2 separate regions of the Homo sapiens genome follow, and region 1 is linked to region 2. The links come from fine-mapping of genetic effects on gene expression. A gene starts in region 2. The other region holds a variant in brackets. All regions are shown on one strand. Distances are from middle to middle. Region 1 overlaps PSMD13 (proteasome 26S subunit, non-ATPase 13). Region 2 holds the start of BET1L (Bet1 golgi vesicular membrane trafficking protein like).

Region 1 (2,792 bases), 38 kb after region 2:
TAAGTAAGCCCTGATATGGTCTCCTATCATTCTGCAAACATGCATTGCTTACTGTGTGCTGGGCACTGTGGCTTGCACACTCCCAACTTGATAGCATTGATGCAGCTTCTTTACCAAAGATAGTGTTTGGGGTCTTCGTTTTGCAGAATAAAAGACATCCTATAATTTCTCTCCATGTTTTGGTTTCACAGCTTTATGAAAACTTTATCAGTGAATTTGAACACAGGTAAAAGCCTCTCATCCGTTTTTCACTTTGAAAATGAGTGCATTGATGCTCGGCGGTGCTCAAAGGCTGGTGGCTTTTATTTCAGGGTGAACCCTTTGTCCCTCGTGGAAATCATTCTTCATGTAGTTAGACAGATGACTGGTAAGTCTCACTTTGTTTTATAAAGGAGCAGATCCAAATGGTGGTTAAAATTGAAATATAAGTTAACTGAACTTTTGTGTTTTCTGTATCAGATATTATGTTTTTATTATACTTTATGGTCAAAACCTAAAGATTACCCTACCTAAGGGTGTCTTGGTTAGCAGAAACCAGTCTGTTGATGGTCCTTCTGATTGTTCCTTCTTTTCCAGATCCTAATGTGGCTCTTACTTTTCTGGAAAAGACTCGTGAGAAGGTAAATGTGGCATGTGGGCAATACCTTTTAGTACCTTTTAGAGTATGTATGACTTAACAGCTTGTGTTCATGCTCACTGTCCAGACCTTTAGAGACCACAAGGCCTCTAGTCATCAAGGTTAAGTTAATGTACAAGTAGCTAGCTTCCTTTGTTAGTCAACTGCCCACATTCTGAGGTTTCTTGTTTTTGTTTTTGATGTCTTAGGTGAAAAGTAGTGATGAGGCAGTGATCCTGTGTAAAACAGCAATTGGAGCTCTAAAATTAAACATCGGGGACCTACAGGTTACAAAGGTGAGATCACCATAATACAGATTTATCTTTGGTTTAAAATTATTTAAAACCCTAGGAAAAAAAATAACCTATTTTTCTTCTTTACTGTTTATTTTAAAACATTTTTACATTACAGAAAAGTTGCAAAAATAACACAAAGAACTACTATACCCCAACCTAAATTTCCCATTGCAAACCTTTTTTTTTTTTTTTTTTTAAAGACGGAGTCTCGCTCTGTTTCCCAGGCTGGAGTGCAATGGTGCAATCTCGGCCCACCGCAACCTCCGCCTCACGGGTTCAAGCAATTCTCCTGCCTCAACCTCCTGAGTAGCTGGAATTACAGGCGCGTGCCTCCCTGCCCGGCTAATTTTTTTGTATTTTTAGTAGAGACAGGGTTTCGCCATGTTGGCCAGGCTGGTCTGGAACTCCTGACCTCAAGTGATCCCTCTGCCTCAGCCTCCCAAAGTGCTGGGATTACAGCCGTGAGCCGCTGCGCCCAGCCCCCCCGATTGCTAACCTTTTAC[C/T]GCTTTTGCCTTTGTGTGTGTCTGTAGCTTTTTTCCAAAACCACTTAGGAGTAAGTTGCTGATACAATGCCTGTTGCCCTTAAACAAAAGAGCACTCCCCTGTGTGACCACAGCACATCCGTCTAATAATGACTCCACATGGCCTCAGTCAGCCCAAAGCACATTGGTTCTCCCTGACCAAGGTCAGCCTACACACCACTGGCATGTCACGTGCTATTTCTCCATCTTCCTTCTGCCTCCTAAATGTTGTTGAAGTATCCTGTCTATTTTTATGTCTTTCTTATGTTCAATTATGTTTTGGTGCAGTTGGGAGACAGGTATGGATGTGGGTGGCAGTGAAACCGACATGTGGCTGGTCCACCTGGTTGAACCAGAACGTGTGTGTGTGTGTGTGTGTGTGTGTGTGTGTGTGTGTGTTTGCATGTGTGTTCGTGTGTTTGTGTGTGTTTGTGTGTGTGTGTTTGTGTGTGTGTGTGTTTGCTAATCACAATGTTAAAGAAAATATTGGGGGTAAGGGTTAAAGTGTTCATGTCCTCATTGCCCTGAAAAGATACTTTTTATTGTTTATTGTCAGTCCTAACCCATATGCATACTTAGTGCATTTTATTTTCAAATATTTTAAGACATATTGAAAGCTATAAGTCACAGTACAGAATGCTGTAATAGGCATCCATGTGCCCCAACCAGCTTAGGAAGGAATGAAGCCACACGGCACAGTCAGGGTCCCAGTACCCTTCAGACCACACTTCTCCCCCAGCCAGGCTCCCTCTCATGCCCATGCATTTCCTTGTCCTTCATTAAATAGGGGTGTGTAACTCAAGCGTTTTAACATTGGCTCAATACTAGGTTTCAGAGTCATGTGGGTATGTGTAACCAATGTGCTGTTACTCCTATACGGTATTTCATTGTATAAGTGTTTCACAACATATGTATCCAGTCTCCTATTGAAGAGATTTAGGGCCAGGTGCGATGGTCACACCTGTAATCCCAGCACTTTGGGAGGCTGAGGCAGGTGGATCACAAGGTCAGGAGTTCAAGACCAACCCAGCCAAGATGGTAAAACCCCGTCTCTACTAAAACCACAAAAATTAGCCGGGCATGGTGGCGGGCGCCTGTAGTCCCAGCCACTCGGGAGGCTGAGGCAGCGAATTGCTTCAGCCTGCAAGGCGGAGGTTGCAGTGAGCCGAGATCGCACCACTGCACTACAGCTTGGGCAACAGAGCGAGACTCTGTCTCAAAAAAAAAGGGAGATTTAGGTTGTTTTTTTTACTATCACAAACAGTACTGCCATAAGTATTTCTGTGCCTGGTCCCTTGTGTGTGGGCAGAATCTCACCAAGATGTATGCCTAGAGACTACAGGTACAAGCTGTGTGCAT
Region 2 (2,792 bases):
CAGGCTGCATAAAGGACGATGTGTGTAAGGGCCTGTCATGTGAACACATGTCCTGTGTACACATCAAGGTGGGGATGGGCAAGCACCCACAATGGGTTCGGTCCAACCAGCACCTTCTGAGACTGTGTAGCAAAAACTGGACCCAGCCCTGGGGTGCTAGTATGATGTGACACTTGCATCCAGGGAGGTCACCATCTGTGTATGTGGAGCCCATTCTTATAGAAAAAGAGTAAACTCTGCTAAGAGCATAGAAAAGACTTGGGAAAAGTACCCAGCAAGGCAGCAGAAAGGCTCCTGCAGAGACGACCTTTGAGCTAGGTCCTGAAGAGGTGGCAAGGAACCAGGACAGAACATTGGGAAGGCCCTTTACCGCACAGAAAATGGCTGAGCAAAGTTCCCAATTTCCCCGAGACGGGAGCTGAGGTCGACCAGGAGCGGGATCCTTGGTCTGCATCCCGCATGGGGCTTCCTGCAACACCCAGGGCAGAGTGCTCGCAGAGGCCTGGCCTGTGACAGGCTGGGCCAGGGGATAAGGAAGTTCTGTCACATCAGGTGCGTGAGAACCACCTCCTCCCTAGCTTCAGTGTCAGGAAGGGATGCCAGCGTCCTTCCAGCCACTTCATATTTATAAATTCCTTTAATCATCATAACACCTCACAGAGACAGGCATCAATATCCCACTTTGCAGACAAGAACACGGGCTCCAGGAGGGGAAATGGGGCCACCGAGGCCAAAGTAAGAGTCCTGCTTGGACACCAGCGGAGCACAGCCTCTACTCCTAGGGCCTGGCCTCGGGACCTGTCGAATGCCGACTCCCGCTCACCCCGAACCCATGCAGAACGATCTCACAGGGGGCGGCGGGGAGTGGGGAGACCCCGCTGCTGCGCGACCCCTCGCTGGAGCTGCTGGGCCGCCACGCGCGCCTTCGGTCCTAACGGCAGTGCCGGCCGAAACCCGGCCCTGCTCGGACCCGGAAGGATCCGAATCCGCCCCCCTGACAGGGTCCTCTCGGCCGAGGTCACCCCAGCTGGGCCAGAGGCAGGCGCACGCGGCTCTACAGGCAGCGGCGTCGGTTTCGGCCCGGCCCTGCCCCCAACGGCTCCGCTCTCCCGCGCTCACCCCGAGCCCAGTCCGCCATCGTGCCCTGCCCCGGCTCCTCGACGCGGACACCGACGCGGCCACAGCCGCCTCAGACGTGGCGCAGTCGCGGGGAAAGAGCTTCCGGCCCCGCCCCCAGCTAGCGATGGCCCCGCCTCCGCACCGACCACGCCCCTAGATAGCCCAGCCCCTTCCGCTTCGGGCTCGCTGACTTCCGGCTTAGGGCCGAGGGTGGGGAACTGCCGGGCGCGGAAGCGATGGGCATATCTGTGGCTTATTTTCAGCACTGTCGCGCAGACAGTGGCGCGATCTCAGCTCACTGCAGCCCCCGCCTGCCGGGCTCCCAAGGTGCTGGGATTACAGCAGCACCGCGGATGTGACGTTTGGTGTTCCTGTGAACGTGGGGCGGGGCGGGGCCGTTTGCTTGCTCAGTGCCTAGACGATGGTGGTGGAAAGACGCTTCTGTGGGTTAGGTCCTAACGGTTAGGAAGGATTCACAGGCGGGTCATGAGGAAGGAGCAGACCCCTCGGGCAGAAGCCCGCGAGGAGCACTGGGTGTGGTGGGGGCAGGGGTGCCTCCTCTGTCAAGTGGAGATCGGCGCCTCGCTCGTGCCTGCGAGTGCGCGCCGCGTCGAATACAGCCGTACAGAACGCACTACAGGAAAGTGAAGCCGGGAGAGAGACTGGGAGGCGGCGCGGGGACTGGGGGCCGTAGACGCCTTTGCTCCCGGGCACTTGTTAGAAGAGCGAGTGGATCGCGCTTCCTGTGCGTCACTGAATCCTCATGACGGCCACTGAAACGGACACGCAGGATCTTTGCTTTTCAAGAGGGAACTGAGTCCAGGCCAGACTGGGTTGCTCCCCTTTCTCTCGGCCCCTCCACCTTTGCAAGTGCTGCTCCTTCTGCCTGGAGTGGCTCCTCCAGTCTTTTCCCGGCTCACTTCCCACCGTCCGGTGTCAGCAAAAACAGCACTTCCTCACAGCCCGTTGCAGCCCAGCAGTCGCCTTTTGCTTCTTTTGAAGCACAGCCCTGTGACCGCCTCGTGTCCTTTTGTTTTTCCTTGTCCCCCTTCCCCTCTGGAACATAAGCTCCACAAAGGCAGGGACCTGGGAATCCCGTTCGCCTGCATTCCCCAGCAAACGCCTAACGAACCCAATGGCCCAGGACTGAAAATTCCTTTCCACTTCGGCTTTCCCCTCTACATCCCATCGGTTCTGTGGAGCTCGAGGGGCGTCACTGTGTGTGTGGCAGGGCACGGTGGGGGCTGAGATCGTTTCCTGTTGGAACTTCTGGCCCAAGAAGCGCGGGTCACAAGGAGAGGGGTCAGTTCGGTTCAGAGCGACTCAGCCCCTCGACTCGGGTCTTAAAACCTCCGAGCCGCCAGTTCTGCCTCAGGCCGCGCCCCCTTAAAGCGCCACCAGACGCTGCGCCCCGTTAAAGCGCCACCAGACGCCGCGCCCCGTCCCGGCCTCCCCCGCGCGCTGGCGCGGGGCTTTCTGGGCCAGGGCGGGGCCGGCGAACTGCGGCCCGGAACGGCTGAGGAAGGGCCCGTCCCGCCTTCCCCGGCGCGCCATGGAGCCCCGGGCGGTTGCAGAAGCCGTGGAGACGGGTGAGGAGGATGTGATTATGGAAGCTCTGCGGTCATACAACCAGGAGGTAAGCGGCCGCCTGAGGCCGGGGGGCGGGCACGGAG

Evidence for each region. PIP is the estimated chance that this variant, and not a neighbour inherited with it, causes the effect. A credible set is the group of variants that fine-mapping cannot tell apart.
Region 1: its variant is the best candidate, but not a certain one, in a credible set for the expression of BET1L in whole blood (TOPMed, PIP 0.82).

The regions. Positions count from the first base shown.
Region 1 is chr11:243,850-246,641 of GRCh38, forward strand. PSMD13 (proteasome 26S subunit, non-ATPase 13) reads left to right here. Exons shown (of 13, transcript NM_002817.4): 3 at 192-226; 4 at 312-367; 5 at 577-620; 6 at 826-912. Among named protein-coding and RNA genes, the nearest start is that of PSMD13, 8.3 kb to the left of the region's middle. The variant C/T (reference allele first, on the strand shown) is at 1,416.
Region 2 is chr11:206,184-208,975 of GRCh38, forward strand. BET1L (Bet1 golgi vesicular membrane trafficking protein like) reads right to left here and starts at 1,216. Exons shown (of 4, transcript NM_001098787.2): 1 at 1,120-1,216. The coding sequence starts at 1,138. RIC8A (RIC8 guanine nucleotide exchange factor A) reads left to right here and starts at 1,525. Exons shown (of 10, transcript NM_001286134.2): 1 at 1,525-2,755. The coding sequence starts at 2,672. RefSeq lists enhancers at 1-131, 442-943, 1,490-2,111, 1,967-2,136, 2,112-2,731 and silencers at 888-947, 1,058-1,177, 2,239-2,437, 2,438-2,727.